3 separate regions of the Homo sapiens genome follow, and all the other regions are linked to region 1. The links come from fine-mapping of genetic effects on gene expression. A gene starts in region 1. Each other region holds a variant in brackets. All regions are shown on one strand. Distances are between the middles of the regions.

What was found. PIP is the estimated chance that this variant, and not a neighbour inherited with it, causes the effect.
Region 2: its variant is fine-mapped to the expression of OR52N4 in whole blood (TOPMed, PIP 0.97).
Region 3: its variant is fine-mapped to the expression of OR52N4 in whole blood (TOPMed, PIP 0.97). The same link has a PIP of 0.9 or more in lung.

Annotation. Positions count from the first base shown.
Region 1 is chr11:5,749,785-5,757,976 of GRCh38, reverse strand. OR52N4 (olfactory receptor family 52 subfamily N member 4) reads right to left here and starts at 3,734. Exons shown (of 2, transcript NM_001005175.5): 1 at 3,672-3,734; 2 at 2,019-3,284. The coding sequence starts at 3,236. The coding sequence ends at 2,271.
Region 2 is chr11:5,720,659-5,728,850 of GRCh38, reverse strand. It overlaps a transcript of OR52N4 not described here and the pseudogene OR52P1. Among named protein-coding and RNA genes, the nearest start is that of OR56B1, 12 kb to the left of the region's middle. The variant TTCA/A (reference allele first, on the strand shown) is at 4,786.
Region 3 is chr11:5,705,393-5,713,577 of GRCh38, reverse strand. It overlaps TRIM22 (tripartite motif containing 22), which reads right to left. Exons shown (of 8, transcript NM_006074.5): 5 at 6,962-6,984; 6 at 5,305-5,405; 7 at 4,975-5,001; 8 at 2,715-4,525. The coding sequence ends at 3,930. Among named protein-coding and RNA genes, the nearest start is that of TRIM22, 20 kb to the right of the region's middle. The variant G/A (reference allele first, on the strand shown) is at 4,514.

The DNA of each region.
Region 1 (8,192 bases):
TTAAATAATGAGGTGTGAGGCCTTCAACTTTGTTCTTTCTTAAGATTGTTTTGGTTATTTATAGTCCTTTGTGGTTCCACATGAATATTAGCACTGCTTTTTTATTTCTATAAAAATTTTCATTGGGAATTAAATAAGGATTGCACTAAGTTCATAGTTACCTCATGCAGTACGAGAATTTTAACACTAGCAAGTCTTCTAAAATGTGAACATAAAATATCTTTCCATTTATTTGCATCTTCTTTAAAAAAAAGTTTTGTAGTTTTCAGTTTATAAGTGTTTGCCTTCTTGGTTAAATTTATTCCAAAGTGTTATATTCTTTTTAATATTATTACTGTAAAAAAGATTGTTTTCTTAATTTCCATTTCACATTGTTCAAGATAGTGTATGGAAGCACAGGTGATTTTTGTGTGTTGTGAAGTTAGTAGATGCAAATTTTTTATCAAAACTGTATCTAGCCAACTTAACAATTTTGAAATAAGTAATATACATTACATTGACAAGTATAAAATATAAATACATGTTCCAAGATATTTAAGATAAATACATCTTAAAGTATTGAGTGAGAAATTAGCAGATTAAGTTGTTTAGCACAATAAAATGTATTTAAATTAAAACACATAAAATCACTGAATAATAACATCTATTTTTAAGGAAACTAAAATATAACAAACGTTATGCCAAAATCACTGGGAGATAAACTGGAGGAGCAGGACATGGAAAATTGGAGTAGACATGGAGAATGCAGGGGGAAAAAGGAGATATTGACCTGTCTAAGAAAGATAGTATGCCATGAAGAATAAGTACGTGGAAAACAGTTCTCTGAACCTTAGCTTCCTTTGGGGAATCATTAGTTTTATAGCCAATACTTAAGACCATGACACTAAAGGAGAACACCTAGGAAGAGAATGTAGAAAACAAATCAAAGTTAAACAAAGTGTATTACATAAATGAAATATGTAGTGTCTCTGAAGTAAATAAAAATGATATAGTGTTTCAAGATATTGGAAATACTGAGTTGAAATCAATATTCCTGAGAGAGTGTGAGATGAGCAAAGAAGGAGGACTATTTAGTTTGTTAACATGGAAAAGCATTGGTGAAGTTGACAATAGCAATTTCAGATAACAACTGGGATAAGAGAAAGACAAACTAGGAGAAGAGTGATGTCAGGTTGAGGAAGTAAAGAGAATACTGATGACTTTTAGCTTTAGGGTAGCAAATATTGAAATAGGGCGATACATGGAGGATAATAATATTTTAGTGGGTACTGCTGTTTGGCCAGCTTGTAAAATGCAACATAGTCAAGAAGGATTCACTAAGTGAATAAATGCAATTTGACGACTATAGTTAACTAAATTTCAGGGAAGTACATGTTTTCTTGTCAGTTGGACACAGAAAAATAACAGTAAAAGTTGAGTTTATATTCCTTATATAATTGGCTTAGTTTATGAGACATTAATATGAAAATACTATGTTCTATAGTTTCTCACTTGTTTTTTAATTTAGATAAATCTTAAATATTAGAAATATATACCTAATTTTCCTTATTAGATTCACAATTAGAGATAAAATGAAACAAGTAGATTTTGATCCCCTTTCATACAGGTCTTAGAAAAAAATTATACTGTTTTTTATTTTTGGTTAAGATCTCTACCTCTCTTTCCAGGCTCTGTGCTTTTTAAAAAGCCCCTTTAAAGAAAACGAAATATCCAATTATTCTGTTGTGAAATAATTATGTGACCTATTCAGCCTAATAATATTTTAGCTAGATGCTTAGAGACTTAAAACTCATTTTAGACTTTATGGCATGCACTCTAGATTCTCCTTCAGGAAAATGTCATTGAAGAAACAGGTTTTTGGTAGTTATGAGAAATATATAGCACATGTTTTCTAGACAAAAGTAATAACTGGCTATTAATCTGAAATATTAATCTGAAAATTGTGATCATTGAAAAGAAGACTCACATCATCTCCTTCTACTTAGATTTGTCTTTTCATAAAAAATGGACTCATTAGGTTTTGTCGAATAAAATATGGTTTAATTATTAGACTGGTCCTTCACATGAGTGAGAAGGTAAAAAATTTATAGAAATGTTGGTGGGCCTTCCAATGATGTTGAGATTCCCAAGGTACTTATTGAGAATGCACCAGTTAACAAACTCCATTTTGTGATCAATACAGTGCTTCCAGAAAGATTTTATGAACTCCTGCATAAGAGGCAAATAGAAGTAATTCTTTCCTTCTCTTCTCACTCCTGGCAAGTGTTCATTCACATGCTGTAGGATTTGGTATCCTTAGAACCTGAAAGGATCCTTATGACACAGTCTCGTATCTGTTTGGTTTTCACCCCATAGACAATAGGGTTCATAGTGGGTGGTAGGAGCAGATAAATATTGGCTACAATGATGTGGCAAGAAGGGGGGATTATGTGTTCCCCAAAGCGGTGGGAAAAGAAGGAGAAGAAAGCTGGAGTATAGGAGAAAACAATGGCACAAATGTGGGCAGTGCAGGTATTAAAGGCCTTCTGCCGAGCATCTGCTGAGGAGAGGCTGACCACTGCCCGGAGAATCATGGTATAGGAGTTGGTGATACACAGTATGTCAAAGCCCCAAATCAGGAGGGCAACCATCAGACCATAGATGGCATTGACCTTGACATTACCACAGGACAATTTGGCTACAGACATGTGGTCACAGTAGGTATGGGGAAGTATATTGCCTCTGCAGTAGGGCAGGAGCTTGGTGAGGAAAGTAAAGGGAATAATGAGTAATACCCCTCTCAGGAAGGTGGCAGTCCCAACCTTTGCAATTACAGGATTGGTGAGGATAGTTGAATAGCGTAAGGGGTAGCAGATGGCCACATAGCGATCCAGGGCCATAAGCATAAGCACCCCAGACTCCATCCCTGTGAAGGTGTGGGTGAAGAACATCTGGACAAGGCATTCATCAAATCCAATGTCCTTGAGATGAAACCAGAAGATGCAGAGGGCTTTAGGGATTGTACTAGAGCACATAACAAGGTCAGTAAAGGAAAGCATGGCCAAGAAGTAGTACATGGGTTTGTGCAGGGCATCCTCATAGTGAATGAGGTAGAGGAGTCCACAATTCCCTACCATAGCCACAACATACATAGAGCAGAATGGGAAGGAAATCCAGAGTTGTGTGTCTTCCAGTCCTGGGACTCCATTCAGAATAAATGAAGCTGGTATTAGGTCTGTTTTATTCAGTGTTAGCATGATAAGTCTGGTAGGTTATGAAATAGCTCAAAATTTGTCTGGGCTTTCCTAGAGTTAAAAAAAAAAACAAGAGAAAATATAGGTTATTTTTACTGTCTCCCTCTCCCCCAACTTTTAAAAATTCCATAATGCATTTTAATGGTCCAACAACCAAATTTCTGAGTGCCAAGAAATAATTTTGTTTGTCTGTTTAGTTTTATTGATTGATTAATTAATTGATTCAGTAAAAAATTCTTATTGAGCAGTCTAAGTTTTCAACACAGATGCCAATCAAACATCAATTATTTTATAAAAAGACATATTCCCAATCTCATAGATTTATAATCAAGTATAATTCTGACTTTTCAAATGGTATTTTTATTAGAATATCTTACTTAACTATAACTATACTCATCTCAATATAGATATAATTTTAAAGAAGAGTCATTTGATTACCTCACTGATGATCTGAGAGATGAGATGTTGACTTTTTAATTTTTATTCTTAATGACTGACTGATATTTATTCTTGGGTACTCAGGCACTGTTCAAAGAATTTTGAAATTTTAATTAAATTATTACTCAATGAAGCTTGGGGTCTCAAAAATTAGTAAATTTATTGGGTGTCTATACTCAATAATAATTTAATTGTATATTTTAAAATAACTAAAATAATATAATTGGGTTGTCTGTAACACAAAGGATAAATGTTTGAGATGATGGATACCCCTATTTACTTTACTGGGATTTTTTTTTTTTTTTTTTTTTTTTTTTGAGGCAGAGTCTTGCTTTGTTGCCCAGGCTGGAGTGCAGTGGCGCAATCTTGGCTGCAACCTCCACCTCCCGGATTCAAGCAATTCTCCTGTCTTAGCCTCCCGAGTAGCTGCGACTACAGGCACATGCCACCACGCCCAGCTAATTTTTGTATTTTTAGCAGAGATGGGGTTTCACTATATTGGTCAGGTTGGTCTCCAACTCCTGACCTCAGGTAATCCACCCACATCAGGCTCCCAAAGTGCTGGGATTACAGGCATGAGCCACTGTGCCCGGCCCTTTAAAAGGGATTATTACACATTGTATGCTTCTATCAAAATATCTCATACACCCATAAATATATACACCTACTATGTGCCCACAAAAATTTAAAATTAAAAAAGTCAATGAAGTTTTGATTCAATTTTTTCACTTTTCAAGATATCTTTCTTGTTCTTTATGTATCTAGTCAACGCAAACTAGAAGATATCCAAATGCATACATACAGAAAATATATAAAGTACTTCAACAACATCAGTAAGAAAAAGTTGCAGGAAGAAACATACACTTCAAAAGAGAAATAAAATTGCCAATGAACAGGTAAATAGGCACAAACTTTTATATTAATCAGAAAAATAAGTAAAAATTGTATCTCTCATGACAAAGCACCTTTTTTTGGTATGTAGTGACATACCAAACAGGACAGCTAAAATGAAAAGAACTAAAAATACCAAGCATTGGCAAAGATGTAGAACAACTGGAACTCTCATTTACTGCTGGTAGACATGTAAATTAGAACAACTCTTTATTAGATATCTCATAATGATAAACATACACATGACCACCATTGCCATTTCCAACAAAACTATGTATATATATTTACTAGAATACATCAATTAGAATGCTTATTGAAACATGATTTGTAGTATAGCCTAAAACTGGAAAAAACCTAAATGTTCATCAACATCAAATGGGTAAATAAATTTTGGTACATTCCCACAATGAAATACCACGTAACAATAAGAATAAACAATCTATGACTATATGCATAATATAGACGAATCTCACAATATGTGTTAATTTTTTTTAGAAAGACTTAAAATAGATGTAACATCTTGTGATCTTTAAATGAAATACAAAAACGGATCAAATTATTCTGTGCTATTAGAAATAGAAAAATCTTTTTAAAAAGTGAGAGAGAGTGATAACTGAAAGGCAGTATGTGGTAGAAGGGTCCTGTTAGTTGCTGGTCATATTCCCTTACTTGATTTGGTTGTGAGATATACAAGATTCAGGTTGTAAAAATCAATCAACATGTAATTGGATTAATTGTAAAATTGCATATGTATGTTAGAATTTATAATAACAAAAATTAAATTGCCAAGAGGATTAAAGGACGTAATATGTTAAAACATGCTACCACATTTTAAGTGCTCAATACCCATATTTGTATTTTCTACTCAGGCTGGCAGCCATTTTGGCAATGCTTACAAAAATTAACACCATAGGAATCATGAGTGCCACCAAATGAACTCTCTTTTGTGCCCCATCAGAGGAGGTATTCATCCTAACCTCCATTAATAAAATACACTGTTTTAAGATTAGCATCTGATAGGAAGTACAGTCACATGTTCTGCCTTATTGGGTAAGATGAAGAGGACAGATCAGATTTATCAAAAGGCAACTTGTTTTGAAAATAGTAGAAAAACACAGGTTAAACTTGTTAATAGGCATGCTCCTCAAAGATATGTACTCAAGTCATTACAAAATGTCAGAGTTATACTGGGTGTCATAGGAGCACCTGTGTGTCTAACCTAGCCTCAGGAGATGCTCCTAGAGAAGAGGACAGATGCTTCCAGACCTGGAGCATGATTAGAATTCTGACAGGTCAAAGTGGTAGGAACAGCATTTTCTTCTGTTGCTGTTTGCTGTTTCCTACTCATATCGCACTGACATTCTCAGCTTTGTGATAGGCAAACCTCTATCTCCTTGGTGCTCCCTTTGCCCACTCCCCTCAAATGTAGCTAATCCCTATACATTCTTCAAGCAGAACCATCATCAGGAGGTCTCAAATGTCCTTTGGACATGATAGCGACCCATCCTTTAAATTATTTTAAGATAATGTAGCTACCAATAGCCTTGACTAGGGGTAAGAAATTGATTTGTTCAAACAATTATTCTCTTTAATAATATTTCCCTCATGATATTATGAAAATCAACTTATATTTAGGAATTCTCCAAAATTCAGTGAAATCACCGATGTAAGGACAGTGTCTGGTAAAGCATCCTCAGAGCCGAGCAAATCAAATCTCTCATATTAGATACTCAATAAATGTCAATTTTAAAATAAATAAACAAATAAGTAAATGAAAAAGTGAATGACTCACCCGAAACACTTTATTTTGATAATTATTAAATTATAATCTAAGTATTATTAGATTGGTGCAAACATAATTGCGGTTTTTACCATTAAAAGTAATGGCAAAGCCACAATTCCTTTTGCACCAACCTAATATTACTTGGAATGTATAAAAGAAACCACTAGAAGGAAAAAAAAGAGAAAGTTTTACTTAAGATTACTAGAAAAGCTAAACAACATAAGGCATCTCTCTCATAAAGTAGAGAAACAGAGAATACAAAGTGGAAAAAAAAAGATGACAAAGGCAGAACAAACATTGGTTTTGGATATAAAAATAATTTAAACTTCCCATCAAGTTGAAATAATTCCAACTAATTTTTAAAAATTATATATGCAGTATAAGATTTCATCAGAATGAAAATTATACACAAAGGTTTAAAAATATATACAAACATAATATTTTTAGATAAACAGTATACCTCATACTTAGGATATACTAATACTAGAAAAAAGAATTCAAAGCTAAAACACTCAAGTCAAGATCACTTTGAGAAGACAAAACGCTTAGCATTGTGTAATTAAAGGTAATTGTACCAAATTGTTTTTTTTCCAAGTTTGATAAGGTTTTTCTATAACACAAATAACGAAAAGCACTTAAATTCACATTCTCACTTTGTTGATATGGAGGGACAATGTTAATATGAGGACCTCCCAAAGTTACACTTACATTACATAGCAGCTTATAAACTCATTTTTAAATTTTTAATTAAGGTAAGTGAATGGTTCAAAAATTGAAATTTTAGCTTTGGAATTTTCAGAAGTATGTTAATTATTATTTTGTAAAAGCATAAAAGATAGTCTTCAATACATGAAATGTTTTTCTATGAACATCAAAATTACAGGATTCTGCCTTTCAGACAGAATTTATAAACTATGAATTTATATTTTATATTTGTAGTCACTATTATATTTTTCAGATTTTTTACATATACCTCATTTTTCAGATGTTTTACAATATATTATTAAGCAAAATAACTGACAGTGACAGTGGCAATAATCCATTTATAAAACTACTTTTTCAATAATTTATAAAAATTTAGTATAAACTATTCAATAGTGTCACGATTCTTTTCTCCATCTCACTTTAATATATTGAACAGTGTCTTATTAAATGTGATGCTCAGTGCTTGTTTTGGGCTATACATTGCTTTGTAAATAGCAGCTCAGGATGCACTTTTGCAGCTTTTCTTGGAGTTAAAGTGACCATTTCAAGTAATGGAAAATGCTATTTTTAATGTCTTAATGAATTATGTGTGGAAAGAACAATTACCTGGGTGGAGAAAAATATACTTGTAGATCTGTATTGAACCTGCACATATCCAAGTATGTGTTCATGGTTCCACTGCATGTGAAATAAGTATCCATGTGTTAGAAGTAGGTAGAGAAATTAGGGGAAGCATAAATATCTCCTAAACCGAAAATAGAATAATTTGCTTCTGAGATTACATGCACACTTGTATCTAAATACTAGATAAATATTTTATTAGTATTTCCTATATTTTCTTGTTTTCGGCATACCTTTAGTCACTAAAACTGGTTTTATGCTTACACAACAATTTAGGTCCCATCTTCAACACATTTACAAAGCTCTCCAAGAACTACATAACTATCTAAGTATTATTAATAAGTACAAACGTATGCAATTTTCTTCCTAAAACATTTAAAATAGTTTGTACACATCAAAGTTTAATTTCTTCTGCAAAGAAATTTGACTTTGCTATGCTGGGGTGTGGAAAGAGTCATTGGAAAAGTAATATTGATACATGTTATCTTCTATCTAACCTCATTCTTAAACTCTGTAGGCCA
Region 2 (8,192 bases), 29 kb after region 1:
ACTAGTACTCTCCCTATAAAAAGTGATTATTTTTTCTCTGAAAAATGGACAGTGCTCAGCCTACTTCACTGAGTTTCACTATTTGTGCACTGTTTATCCCAACATATTTGAAGTGTCCCAATAAAACACTTATATTCCTGACAGAGACAGAGCTTTGAAGAGCTGGGCATTGGCTTTCTACCTCAGGACTGATACTTTCCCAGGACAGGAGTGTCTGTGAACTTCCACAAGGGAGTTTTGTGTTCCCTCCACCTAACAGGGTAGGATGGCATATAAGCGGATGACAAGCAAAAAATGTGTACTATTGGCGAACTCAAAATTGAAAATGCTAATTTGTTAAGAGAATGTGTTTGATAAATTGTCTGAAGCTATTTGGTGAGGAGTGGACAGAAAGCTCAGTATGTACAGTAACTGGTTTCCAATCTTAGTTTCATGGATATAGTTAGGAACTTTCCATCACCACATGGAGTTACTAGAATCAAGCTTAATCTTCTTTTCATTATAAATAAATAGAAGAATTAATAAATACAGACTAATTTCATAATTAAGAATTCCCATTCTGAGTGGTTTGGGTAAGTGGCCATTTCTTATAGGTTCAGGAGATAAGTCAATGACTTCTGAAAGGTCCTCCCATTGTATGTATGTACAAGAATAATTGGAAACTGCTTGTGAGGGATGATATCCAAGGTCATTCAGACTTAGGTTAGTTCCTGAGAGGCTGGAGACAGGAGTGTACCTGTGAGATAAATAGAAAATGTCTAGAAATGAAGAGTTATTCCTAACCTCTCTTGTGCCCTCATTCATAGAAGTCCTAAAGGATTCTAGTTTTCACAGCTTTGTTCTGCCACTAAGTAACATTGTGGATGCTGGTGGATCTTTTTCTCCTCTTGGTTTGAAGCTCTAATGGAGAAATACAGGGTTTATGGAAAAGCATGATAAATTTTTTGCGGCTTTAACTACTTTAACTGTGGCTATATTGTCCTATCTTCTGATTCTTGCAGCTGGTAAGATAGCTGGTATATCCTAAGGTATGAAATTAGAAATCCATGCCTGGAATATTGGAAGGGTGCCAGGAAATGAGAAGAGATCTTATGGCTATGCAGGGACTCTTCTAAACTGCAGCAGGGTAGAAACCCTCCAGAACACAGTGGGTTGTTTTCAATATCTGCACGTTACCCAGGTTGCAAGAATCTTCCCATGTTTACACTTCTCTGAAAGGAAAGAAAGAATGCCCTTCTCTGTGATTTATCATTCTTGGAAATGGTCTAGAAAGTTCTGCAGAAGACATTATCCCCCTCTTAAAAGCTCTTTCTGGTCTCACATACTGAGGATTATCTTGAAAAGGTTTTTTTTTTATTTTGGATTAAGTCCCTCTATACTCCAGGGTCACTCAGATGCCTTGATGCCCATTTCCTGCCCACTTTGAAACACCCTGACAACTCTTTTACGGATCTGTTTGGTCTTAACTCCATATACCACAGGATTAAGAGCAGGTGGCAAAAGCAGATAAACATTGGCCAAAAGAATGTGAATATGGACTGGAACGTGATGGCCAAAGCGGTGTGTAAAAAAGGAGAAGAGGGCTGGTGTATAAGAGATGAGGATGACACAGACATGGGAACCACAGGTCCCTAGGGCCTTGGACCGAGCTTCATGGGATGAGAGGCGAAGGACAGCTTGTGCAATTAGGGCATAGGAGAGACCAATGCAAAACAAGTCAACCCCAGTGACCAACAGTGCAGCTGTCAGCCCATACACACGGTTAGGCCTGGTGTCTCCACAGGCCAGCTTCACCACAGCCATGTACAGTACGTGTGTAGGATCACATGGCTTTGGCAGAAGTTCAAACGCCCAATAAAGAAGGGACATGGGAGCATGAGCAGGGAGCCTCGCACTACAGCTGCCACCCCTATGTGGGCAATGATGGTGTCAGTGAGGATTGTGGCATAGCGGAGTGGGTGGCAGATGGCCACGTAGCGATCAAAGGCCATGGCCAGTAGCACAGTGGACTCCATCATGCAGAAGGCATGAATGAAGAACATCTGTGCCAGGCAGGCAGAGGCAGATATATGTCCGGCTCCACACCAGAAGATAGCCAGTAGCTTGGGAACTGTGGAGACAGAGGCAGCCAAGTCGATGGTTGAGAGCATGCACAGAAAAAGGTACACAGGCTTGTGCAAGACTGGTTCAGTGGCAACAACAACCAGAATAGTTATATTGCCCACAATTGTGGCTGTGCCTAAGCCACACACAGGGAGTGAGAGCCACAAATGAAATTGTTCCAGACCTGGGATGCCCAGGAGGAAGAAGACAAGAAGGGTCAACATCAGTGTGATGAGGAGATTCCATGTTGTGGCCAAGAGTGCTGGACATTCTCTGTGGTCAGAAACCTCCACATAGTATCACATTATCTGGAGGAACAAGATAGAACAGAGATAGGAATGAGAGAATAGTAACACTTACTGGCTATATCATGTTTAGAAAGCTTCATCATCCATAAAATAGCAATAATAATCATATCTATTCCCTATAGAGAAGAGAATTATATGGGTTAATATGTCTAAAGATTTCTAAAGAGCTTTGAATAATACCTGATATATAATGCTTATTAAATAAAATAAATGAACGTGAGAAAAGGCTCAAATAAGCCTTTAGATAAACTAGAATTGTCTCCTAGCTAAGGCTATACACATATACCTGAATACATACATACACACAAAGAAACACACACACATACATACACACTGTCTTTTATGGAGTATAAGAAGAAATTAGGCATGACTATCAGTTTGGTGACACAAACTACAAACATAGTTCACTGGGTAATCTTGGACTTTTTTTTTCTTGTCCTTTAAGTTGGAATAGATTCTAATTTGGGACCCTGTACTTAGTAATTATTTTTGAACTTAATATTACTCTAGTCGTTTCCACTCTTTTTACTAAGCTATAGATATATTTTCACATATATCCGCTCAATCTTCATCTGAAATTTCATAAGATGCTTCAGCTATCCTTTCCCCAAAATGTTGAAGGTAACCCTTTTGGACTTCATTCTATTTATGAAACTGAAAATTCCAAGCTTTTTCAGCCCACATCTTGGTCAATCCTTTATTCACATTCCATCTGCTGTACCTGGTAATTTCTAAGAAAGGGCATAGTCAAATCCTTCTCAATGTTACCATTCCACAGTGGCAAGAAGCGATTTTACAAGAGTACTTTGACTTTACCTGGACAGTGATGACTAATGTGCCTGATGTCAGAATACTAGGGGCAAAAAAAGCTCAAGGAAATCTAAGGTTCTGCTGATTCCCTCTGCCTAGTTTCATGCTGTTCATCTTTATAGCGTCTGTCCATCTCACTAGGCACACAAATTCCCCCTTCCATGCTTCATGAGAAATTACTGCTTGTTAGTAATTTCAGGAATATTATAGTGAATGCCATAAACTTTCTTCACAATGCCTCGCATGTCTTTCATCTGGTTAACATATCACTTGCTTCTTCCTTTCCAGGTAGTTCCCCACTGTGTTCCCCTTTCCAACTACTCAGCTTAACGCCAAACTATAATTTCTGTTTCAGGATGCCTGCTAACTAAAATTCCAAATTAGACTCTACAGAGGTGTTACTCGGGGAAATTTCCTTTCCTGGATATTCTCCATGCTTTCAAGCAAATCTTTAAATCTTTATTTTAAATCTTATTCTCCATGCTTTCAAGCAAACTTTCCATAACCAGTTTGCACAGAAAAACTTCTCTTGAGGGCTAAGAAATGCCTTTTCCAGAGTCTTTTCCTAGCCAAACTCACAGGATTCCAGGAGAGCAGAAAAGAGAAGGCACCACAGTGTAGAAGCATCCTCAGAAGATTGCAAGAACATTACAAGTCTCTGCTCACCCTCAACTATCTGAAATACATTTCACAGCCCCCTGGGAGTGTACTGGCTTGCACTGAGTTTAAGGCTAGAGCTGCCTAGGGAGCCTCTGTGTTCCCTAGGAAATTGGGCATTCACGCCCTACTCTTCTGAATGCAGTCCAGATCAGAATGTGAAGGTGAAGCCAGAGGCTTTTGTTAAAGATTCAGGGAAGACATATTTGTAGTCTGTTCCCTTGGAGTTCTTTTCCTGTTGTTTTGGTTTGGTTTTAACTCCCCACATATCAGTACTGGCACCATTTCCATAAGGGCAGCTAACATTTTAGAGTCATTGAGGATACAAATACTGTGGTTACTTGAAGGCAGTTCTACCACCCAAAGGATTCCAGGACATGCTTTCTTTCCCCTCCACTCTTTTCTGTGATTATCTCTGGCGCATTCTGCTATGTTTACTTTTTCCTAAGACTCTAATACTGTAGAGAATTTACTACACATGTTCCCAGACTTGCTGACTGGCTTTGTAAAATGCTCTGCTGATTTTTTTATATTGCCTGTGAATGATGTAGCAAGATGGTAATGAAACTCAATAGGAAATTGTACCCATACATGATATCTAGGAGATGTGACTTATTAAAGACAATTTTTCACCATATAAAGTAATTATCTTACGAACTGAGCACACCAGAGAAGACATGCATTAAGCATTACCAAACCTATATCTCCTGGTGGCCTTTGCTGAAAACCTGTCCACTGTACTTATTTCAGTAAACTATATTGTCAAAGAGCTCATTTGCATTAAACCTAAAACCTAATTTTTCTATGGACTAACTTACTCTTGGTACCAATACTCTAATACTCAAATATTTATTTGGTATAGCCCTACCACTACTGTAATTTACTCCACCATGCATCCCTGACCTTC[TTCA/A]AGTTATGAATGAGTGTCTTAAACCTCTCAGAAAAGTAGCTCCTGCCATGATCTGGATTCCACATTATGCAGGGAGAGTTTGGAGAATTGTCAATGTAGAACTGTAGTCTTTTTCCACAGTTTATGGCAGTTGGACTCCTTATCATCTTTACTTAAGTCGGTCTCCTTATTCTCTTTCCAAAAGCTCCCCTGGTTATTTTCTCCTTCAGCCACACCCTATCTAAAGAGATCTATCCTTACCATGAACAGTGCCCACACCTGGACTGGATCTGAATTCTGGTGATCATACTCTATCTTAGCTCCTGAGAGGCTCTCTAAGCCAGTGGTTTGAAAATGTTCTTGTACTTCTAAACTACTTACCGCTCCTGTTAAGCAGATTGCTAGTCCACATCCCCAGAGTTTCTAATTCAGTGAGTTTGGAGCACGACCTCAAAATTTCCTTTACTAACAAATTTCCAATTAAAGGGAATGCTGTTGGTCAAGAGATCATACTTTAAAGAAACACCACCCCCAAAAAAAATTTTTTTTAAGTTTTTTGATTGAGTTTTTCTCCCCAAACTGCTATCTGGTCTGCACTCTTCATGAGTTCTACTGGACAATTTGGCTACCACAAATATCCTTAATAAGTCATGTTAAAAATCTAGAGCAGAATAGGCTTGCAGCAACTTTCCTTTCCTAGAATCTTGACCTGAAAAATTTTACCTTTCTAGAGCTAAAGATGCCTCCAAAAGCCTTCAACCCACTGGGAATTTTTTTGTTCATCCCACAAAACAAGTCTACCTCTCAGCAACTTCTGGGAAAATTTGTGAATAATGCATTCTATGGAGAATGTAATAGCCCTGTGGAGTGTCAACTTGCACAGGCAAAACTATATTCCCTGGAATTCACTTTCTATTATCTTTTCAGATAAGTGGACTACTGGAAATAATCTCTTGTGAGACTTAAGATGGAAGGGAAATAACAGCCATTGCATTGCACACACACCACTCTCAGTTATTCAAACACGAATACAGGTGTTGCTGCAAAGTTGTTGCGGAGATATACCAGAATACCCTAATCAGTTGGCTTTAAGTTAGGTGAATTATCTGGGGTGGGCCTGACTTAATCGGTTAAAAGACCTTAAAAGGGGCTTAGGGCTTCCTTGGAAAAAGAAAGACTCATACCTCTAGAAACCAGCTTCATCCCATGCCTGGGCAGATTCCAGCATGCTCGTGATTTTTACTTTCTCTGACTGTCCACTCTGTGAACTTTGGACTTGCCTAGCCAGCCTCCACAGTTATGTAAGCCAATCCCTTGAATGTGTATGTGTATGTATATATCTCTCCTAATGGTTTTGTGTTTGTGATTGAATCTTGACTAATAAAGAAACCAATGTGTTTTCTCCATTTATTTTACTATGTCATTATTGTATTCTGCAAGGAATTTGGGGTGTTAGCAATAAGCACTAGAAATGGAAATAAGACACAAATCAGACACTGCAAAAATGGAAGTATAATATGATGTTACTACAGAAGCCCAGTGAAAATCTGTATGTAATCTTAGACTGACTATATTACTTTTTAAGAAAATACGAGACACAAGTAGTATGAGATATTGCTGAACTAAAAAATTAGAAATGTGTAATAAATGGTAAAAATGTTAGAAGCATTTCTAAATGCTTCTAAAGCAAGAATAAAAAGGAGTACGCAATCCCCCTGCTCCTTCCATATTGAGTATTGTACCAAAGGTCACAGCCATGCAATAAGAAGAAAAGATAATTAAAAAATAGGAAGCATGAATGGTATTACAATTTGCATAGAAAGTATAAGAGAATCTACAGAGAATTTGTTAGTCTATAAAGATTTCAACAAGATTGATAGATACAAGTTCAAAATAAAGAGATAAGCAAAAATTATAAAAAATTATGGAATTTTTTATGAGTATAAAATGATGAGTTCATGCCCTTTGTAGGGACATGGATGAAGCTGGAAATCATCTTTCTCGGTAAACTATTGCAAGGACAAAAAACCAAACACCGCATGTTCTCACTCATAGGTGGGAATTGAACAATGAGAACACATGGACACAGGAAGGGGAACATCACACTCTGGGGACTGTTGTGGGGTGGGGGGAAGGGGGGAGGGATAGCATTAGGAGATATACCTAATGCTAAATGACGAGTTGATGGGTGCAGCACACCAACATGGCACATGTATACATATGTAACTAACCTGCACATTGTGCACATGTACCCTAAAACTTAAAGTATAATAATAATAAAATAAAAAAAAATAAAAATAAAAATAAAAAATTGTTAAGCACAACATTTTGCTGACGACTTTTTTTTCTTTGTAGGTTTGTAGTGGCTTAAATATGTGCTTAGTACTTATTTCAGACAAGCAGTACTCTGTTCTTCAGCCATTAATGCTCCTGCAAATTTTCCTTGATCTCTGGTCTTCCATTTATAGAAAAGGCACTTCCTGGTTAGTTCTCTCTCTTTTTTTTTTCTCCTGAAGGTTGGACTGTTTGTTTCAAGCTCTGAAATATCCCACCTTTCTGAGCCTATGTTATTAAATTTTTTGTTTACTTCAAGCCTTAATTATTAGTATAACTAGAACAACACTCTGGAAAAGTTGCATTTATTTTCCTGACATTTTAAGAGTCTCATTTAAATAGTGGTCATGTGGCTTTTAAAGTAGGTGTCTTTTTCACTGAATTCTGCCTTTACATATTAGCTATACAATATGATGAAAAATCCTAAAATATTTCAGGCTACAAACTTCATGAGTCTTAAAATATTTGCCACTATATTCCAAATCAATGTCTGGAAGTGATAAACAATATCTCCTGAACTTAATGTATTCACATATCTTGGCACACGATCTGAACTCTACACACCACTCCAAGTGCTTGTTCATGATTTCTTCCTTGATTTCCAGAGAAATGGCCTGGCAGAATTCTGTAACCAAGACTTCCAATATAACACTGACTTTTATAACTATGACCCTTCACAGAACATTCTCAGAATTTTCTCTTTGCTAGAGATTCTTGTCATATGCTGGAATTAGTTGAGACAAGCAGAACAGTTGACTCTAGGAATTTTTATAAATATAAAATTTGTTAGAATGCATATCCACCTTCTAAGAGTAAGAGTTTCCCATTTTCTCCTTTTCCTTTGAAATTTCTCTGGGAATTTCAGATTATGTTTTCTGTACATATTCCCTAGGCTTATAAGGAAGGAACCAGTTCTGTTGCTCAAGTGTAAGTCTTCTGCAGTAAGGATAACATAGTGACTAAATTCAATCTTGAACATTCATTGTCCTTTTTGACTCCTCCTAAGCAATCTTCTCCATTTTACCTTCCCCTTGAACACACAAATACACACACACACACCTACACACACAGCTTAGCCTTATCTTGGCAAA
Region 3 (8,185 bases), 44 kb after region 1:
TTTCTCCAAACCCCTCTGTAACGAACAGACACCCACTAATTTCCACCTCTTTATACTCATGCCTTTATAAAATTTCTTCCTTTTTAGAGTAGGCAGAATTTCTGAATTCCTTATAAGCAACATTATGTGGCAAAAGTGATGGGATGTTACTACCATGGTTGTCTTATATTATGTAAGGCCTTCTCACTAAAATAGTCTTCTTCTCCTGTTGGCCTTGAAGAGGCAACAACCATAGTATGAACTACCTATTGAGAGGTTCATGTAGCAAGAAACTTCAGGCAGTCTTCAGGATCAGAGGGCCTAGGTCCTACACGAGCAAGGAACTGAATTCTACTAATAACCTAAGTTAGCTTGGAAATAGGTCCTTCCCTACTCTGACCTCCACATGAAAACTCATCCCAGCTGGCACTGTGAGTTCATTATGGAGAGATCGTGAAGGAGAAAACCCATCTAAGCTGGGTCCAGACTTCTGATCCACAGATACTGTAACATAACAAATGTTATCTTACATTTATCTTGCTACTAAATTTGCAATAGCCTATTTTAATGCAGCAAAGAAAGCTAATGCAACTTTTACCTGCATGGGTAAAATACTGTACATTAATATAATCTTTATTAATAATTCAATTGAAAAATGTTAAGGACTTTGATTCTTTACTCAGATTATTCTATTTCTTAAAACAGTTAATTATTTCAAAACTAAATTAGTATGCATTCTTAAAATTATTTTTCTCAAGTCAGAGAAAAGAATCCAAGAAAAAAAATAACATATACCACTCTTGTGTCAGTGCATATGTTCCATGAAATAGCAGAAGTTATTACAAATATACTATTATTTAATTCTCATAATATCACTGCCAGGTAGGTCTTATAAGGGCCACTAGGTGGCTATGTCATCATTATGTAAAATTCCACCTGTTTTCAGAATGCAAGTTTGTAACCATTCAATTATAAAGTTCATCCTCTACACCAAGAGGAGGGAACATTTTCGTCATGTCATCTGCAATAGCCTACTTGTCATAAAGTGCTTCCATGTCCTTCTTCCTCATTTATGGCTATATGTATTCAGATTATCAATTTACATTTGATGGCACCTAAAGTTTTTCTTAAAACTCCTGCAGATCAGCATTTCCTGGGCTCTCCCTTCTGTCCCCATCTCCTGGGAAATTGGCTGCGGCCTTCTCCATGGCAGTGTGGTACAGAGGAGTGAGCATAGGTGCTTAGTAACACAGGCCTGGTATTAATCCTGCCTCTTCTACTCAATAGCTTTGGGACCATCAGGAAAACTCTAACAGCTTATTGACTCCTTCAACCCCTTTATATAAATTTCTCTTTGGCCAGGCACGGTAGCTCACGCCTGTAATCCCAGCACTTTGGGAGGCCAAGACAGGCAGATCACCTGAGGTCAGGAGTTCGAGATCAGCCTGGCCAACATGGCGAAGCCCCATCTCTACCAAAAATACAAAAAAAATTAGCCGGGCATGGTGGCACGTGCCTGTAATCCCAGCTACTCGGGAGGCTGAGGCAGGAGAATTGCTTGAACCCAGGAGGCAGAGGTTGCAGTGAGCAGAGATTGTGCCATTGCAGTGAGCCGAGATCGTCCCATTGCACTCCAGCCTGGGCAACAACAGCAAAATTCCGTCTCAGAAAAAAAAAAAAAAATCTCCTTTTTATGATATTTGTACAGATTATCTTGGATAATGTTCATGTGTGTATCTATAATATATTTATACATATTATTATATGTATATATACCTATATGTATAGATATATGAATGAATGTGTATACATGTCTATATCAATCTCAAGCCAGGCACTTTCACACTATTCCTTTCTTCAAAGTCCAACAAATCTTGATGTGAATTCTGTACAATGGCATAACCTGCCCTAATTTATAATGTATACATGATGGTTAATTTTACATGCTAATTTGACTGGTCATAGATTGCCCGGATTAAACATTATTTCTGGTGGTATTTGTAAGGGTATTTCTGGTTGTATTTGTAAGGGTGTTTCTGGTTGTATTTGTAAGGGTGTTTCTGAAAAAGATTAGCACCTGAATAGCTGGACTCAGTAATGGCTACCTCTCCAAAGCTTGCCCTCCCCCAAGTTGCTGGACATCATCTAATCCATAAAGGATCTGAGTAGGAGAAAGGGTTGAGGAAGAAGATATTTGCTTCTTTTCCTGCCGCAGTACTTGAGCTGAGACATGTCACCTCATCTTTTTCTGCCTTTGTACTGGCATTTATACCATCAGCTCCCTGGTTCTTAGGGCTTCAGAGACACACTGACTTATATCACCAGCTTTTGGGTCTCTGGTTTCCAAATGGCAGATAATGGGAAGTCTTAGCCTCCATAATCAAGTAAGCCAATTCCTCATAATAAATACATATCTCTTATTGTTCTGTTTCTCTGGAGAACCCCGACTAATACAATATATTTCTTCAAGAATGTTTTGTGTCTTTGCTATCCTAGGTAGTTCTACTACTCATCCTGTGTTTGAAAAAAGACTTAAAAAAAAAAAAAAAGAAAAGTACCTAGGATGGTAAATGCAATGGTACACACAAGTGTTTCATTACGAGAAACAGATCTGAACAGCATAAGGCTGTCTCTTATCAAGGACAGCTGAGCCTAGACATGACCTTCTTTACTGGACATATGGAAACTCATATTATCTGCAGCAAGATTTTGGAAACTGAAGAATGAGACTTCAGTAGAGCCAGCTATTGTTTTATTGAAGCAAAAAGAAAACAGAACAAAAACAAAAAATTGTTTCCCAAGACATTGAAATGGCTGACATCTTTTCAGTAATAATCAGAACAATATTTATTTTTATATTTAAAATTCATAGAAAAGTGCCTTACATTTAATAAAAGTTTGTTTCTCAAAGTGATCAGAGGAATTAGATATAGTCTTGAACACCAATATTAATTTGAGGAAAATACACCAAAATACATTAAGTAAATTATTTAAGATCATAGAGCTTGTAAGTGAAAAGATAAAATTTGACCTCAGAAACTCTGAGCATTAAAAATCCACTATTAGCAAATAAATTACTATGGACTTCTTGCTTTAATTTTGTGATGAATATGGGGTGTCACTGGTAAACCAACACATTCTGAAGGATACATTACTTAGTGATAGATTCTTATGTACTTTGCTAGATAACGTGGATATGAGTTGACAAGTTTCTCTTTCTTCAATCTTTTAAGGGGCAGAGGAAATGAGGAAGAAAAGAAAAGGAATTACAGCAATACTGTTCTTTCTATAGGAAGGATTAGATATGTTTCCTTTGCAAATATAAAAAAAATAATAATGTTTACTACTAGTGAAACCAAGGTATTAGGAAAATAATGTACAAGCATCTCTTGCAAGAAAGGGTAAGATTGTTATGAGTGAAATCGTGCCTTCCTCAAATTTATATGTTGGAGTTTTTATTCCCAATACCTCCAAATATTATCTTATTTGGAAATAAGGTCTTTGTAGAGAATATAATGTTAAAATGATTTCATTAAGGCATTAGCGGTGGGCCCTGAGCCAGTATGACTGGTGTCTTAATAAAAAGGGAAAACTTGGGCACAGAGATGTACATAAAGACAATGTGAAGAGTCATAGGGACAAGATGCCTTCTACAAGCCAAGGAGAGAGGCATGGAACAGAGCCCTTCCTTGCAGACCTCAGAAAGAACCAACTCTGCTGGAATCTAGATTTGGGATTTCCAGCCCACAGTACGGCAATACAATTACAGTTTAAATCAGCAATCTATGATGCTTTGCTATGGAAGCCCTAGCAAATGAATACAAAGACATTCTAAGTAAAAGAAGGGGAAAGAAAGGAAGAGATGGTCTCAGTAGAGATGAACTCAGGTGCAGAATCTGAGTCTCAGCACAAGGGCTACTATGCAGAAGTGGGTAAAGGAATGAGAACACTCAGGAGCTCGGTGGGCACACAGTCATGGGGACTAGGCAGTTCCAAGGATTGAAATACGGATAAGCAGGTCGAGAAAAGCGACATCCAGAGAACTTGTAGATGAGTGCTCCGTGGTTTGTGACATTGAAAAATGAGACAATGCCTGCCTCATAGTCTAGGAAAACCCCAATACGACAGGGAGGCACAGCCATAAAGAGAGTCAAAACCTTGGGATCAGAAGAGGAGGAGTCCTCAAAAGCATTATATTCACATGTATTCTGTAATCCTATAACCCAGTAGCCATATTGAGGTCTATATCTGGAGTAAACTTTTGAATAATTTACACTTGGATCAAAAGCAAACCCAGAGCTCTTCCTTTTATTCAGACTACTTATTTTACTGTGTACGCCCAGGATCCAGGCAATCTTTCCAGACACATCTACTTCCCAGTAATATTTCCCCGAAGAGAAATATTGGCAGCCGAAGACACCAAAAGCAGAAAAATCACATGGATTTGAATTCTTAAATGTGCAGGTGCGTACAGTTTTCACTTGTCTCTGATCCACAGAAATAGCAACATTCGAAGTGGCACTGCCTGGATTCA[G/A]CATCACGTCCACTGTAGAAAAAATTACCAAGTCAAGTGAAGGATATGGGATAGGTGTGTCTTACAGCATTGAGAAGAGACATATTGAAAATGAAACTTGTGTCGATATCAAACGGAACTTGTGTTGATAGTCAGAGGTTAGTAGGACCCTTAAGAAATACAGGGTGTAAGACTATAAAAATTAGCCAAGCGTGGTGGCACACGCCTGTAATCCCAGCTACTTGGGAGGCTGAGGCAGCAGAATCGCTTGAACCCAGGAGGCAGAGGTTGCAGTGAGCCGAGACCGCGCCATTGCACTCCAGCCTGGGCAACAATAGCAAAAATCTATCTTAAAAAAAAAAAAAAAAAGAACTACATGGTTTAAGCATGTTTGGGGAGGAACACATGAGACTCAGATTATGAGATCTAATAGTAACCACAATTCTGAAAGGAAGTGATTTGAAAACCCCATATCATCTTACCCCAGTAGTACTGGACATCTGTCAGCTCTGAAACGACAAAAGTTTCAGTGATGTTGTTAGAAGCAAATAAGTAAGTACTGACACCTGTCTCTTCTCCAGAGTAGGGAAAGGAAAGGGGGAATACTGGGATTCTTTGCACTGGTGAATGAGAGGATGAATCAGACACCTGGTCATTCCCCCTAAGACAGGACCACATCTACAGCACAGGATTTTCCTCCTTCTCTGGCCCACCTCCTCTCCTATATCCTAACCTAAAAAAACCTCCCGCTTCCCTATTGAGCCCTGATACTAAGAAATCCACATTCACAGCCTTCCCCTGAATCCCCTTACCTTTAAGAACTTGCAGCATCCCACTCAGATCTGGTACTCGGAATACACTCTTTAGTTTCTTGGAAACAGATTTTGGCTTCTTCAATGTCCAGCTTTCACTCCTAGTGATAACAAAAATTGATAACCTTTACACCTTTGCCCTATTTCTCTCCATCCAAGATCACTGTCTCTTTCACCTTTCACCATACTTGCTGACGCACTTGGACCCTCTTCCCTGAGGACAGTAGAGGGGAGATGCCTGACACTGGAGTCCAGAGAAATGTGCTCATGTCTACCTGTCTGTGTGTAATCTTGGGAAGGTCTTCCCCTCTGTGTAATCTTGGGAAGGTCTTCACTTCAACGATGTTCGCTTTCTTACTTTTAAAATGCAATAATTAACCCCATGCTTTCTACCTCTTAAAAATGAATATAAAATTAGATAAAATAATAATGCTTTTGTTTGTTTGTTTGTTTGTTTGTTTTGAGATGGGGTCTCACTCTGTTATCCAGGCTGGAGTGTAGTGGCGCGACCTCGGCTCACTGCAACCTCTGCCTCCCAGGTTCAAGCCATTCTCCTGCCTCAGCCTCCCAAGTAGCTGGGATTACAGGTGCCTGCTACCACATCCAGCTAATTTTTTTGTACTTTTAGTAGAGACAGGGTTTCACCATGTTGGCCAGGCTGGTTTTGAACTTCTGACCTCAAGTGATCCGCCTGCCTCGGCTTCCCAAAGTGCTAGCATTGTAGGCGTGACCCACTGCACCCAGCCAATAATGCTTTTAAAAGATATTCAGTGCCTCTAAAAAACTTATTTAATATTTAGAAAAGTCATTGCCATCTCAGTGGGTCCACCAGGAAGAGGCCAGAGATGTGGGTTCCTAGACAGGTGGTCATTAAGGAGGCCATAGAATCTGTCTCCTGAGTTGTTGAGAGATATCAAAGTAGGATCCTATATTGAAGAGCTAAAGGGTTTCCAAAATCTGTTATCCCAATATGAGACCTAGAGAATAATGTCTGAGGTTTCAAGTTATTTGGGGAAAGACAAATTACGATGACTAAATTAATTAATAGTGGTCTGATTTTCATGTGTTTAAAAAAACTTTGATGTTGCCAAGTAGGTGGGCAACTTTAGACACAAGAATATTATTTTTTCCTACAAGACGGTAAAGTATGTGAGCAAGAAAAGGTTATGCTAGCACCAGGACCAAAGCCACTATTCCTCAAGACTTGAATCTATTTTTCTAGAAATCTAAAAAGCACCACCTAGAAAGTTATTGTTTATTTTATTCTCAGGGAGGAAAACAAACATAAAGGCGCTGTCTCTGAAAAATTTGGAGTCTGGCATATAAAAAGGGCAGAGCCTCACTGCAATAAGACAGGCATCTATGCAATATGGAAACAACAGAGACAGAGGTTTGAATAAAGTGAGTGAAGTCATGGGGTTCTGATATTGCAAACTCTTATTCCTAAGGCCTCCGTCGACCCTAACTCTGTGATCTCCCAACACCAAAATTTCTTACAATTGAAAACTTTAATCTGTGACTAGCAATTTGGGACAATTTAATACACAAATTTCCCAGCCTTTTGATTTTTTAAGTTGTTCTGATTGAAGGAAGATATCTCTCAGGACTATAATTCTCTTTTCAGACAAATAAGACCACATCTCTCTTCCACATATACCTTTTCATGACGTCAATCACATCCTGGGGAAAAGATAGAAAACATGAGTCAAGATAGGGTTGCCAGATTTAGAACATAAAAGTGGCTAGTTCAATTAGAATTTGGGATAAACAATATATTTTTTGTTATATATATGACCCTTATAATATTTAAGATATTCTTATACTAAAAATATTACATTTCTTTTATCTGAAATTAAACTTTAACTGAGCATCCTGTATTTTGTCTAGCAATGCTCAAAAAAGTAATAGGCCCTCCTATCTTACAAAGTTTTATCCACCTTCCTCCCCACACTCTTACTATCCCTGGATATGGTGGGAATAAATAGATGGTCACAGACTGGGGACAAAGTGTGGAGATAAGATTCAGACTGACCACTGCAGAGGACTAAGATGAGGGTGTTAGGAAGATGCTTCAAGTATCTCAAGAAGGAATATATTTTAAAAAGAGGGAGGAGCTCTAATATTTTTATACATTTTTAATGAGAAAACCTCATTAATTCATTGTGTTTTTATTTTATACATCAACAGACACAAAACAGCGAAATACGTTTGCCCTATATTTTTTCAGGCTTTAGGGATCTAATGATGAAAATTAATAATAAAAGTCCTTAAGAAGTGTACTGTTGCCGTGAGCAAAAGCAAGCAAGCATTTCAACTAAAAGTTTGTCTGGCCTCCATGTACTCACTGTGTATGCTGACTAAACTCCACTGTAGGTGATCTCATACATTTTTCAGTATGAAACAAGCCACAGGACCAAGTAACTGAGTAGGTCTTAAATGTAACTTACTATTTCCCAACTATTTACACCCCACTGTCCCGAATAGTGTCAATATCCACTTAGTCATCATCTTTGAAACTATAAAATTTTATCCTGGATTCCAACATTTTATTAACCTAGACTAGTTTACATTTTTAACTGTTTTTAGCTATCTTTTCTTTCTCACCATAACCATTATTTCCTTTATTTTTTTGAACAAGTATGTACCAATATATTTGATCTCCCGCTGTCTGATCTGACCCCCTTTATACCAACAAAGACTTGACCTCCAGTTGACTTCACACCCTCAGAAATAGTTTCACTGCCTGTATTAGCTTTTTTGTTGTTGTAATATCTGACAAAACCAACTAAAACTGGTTTAAATTTTTAAAAAACAAATTCAAGGGGTCAAGTATAATTTTACTCATAGCTACATCTTTAAACTAAAATCTTGCCATCAGAAT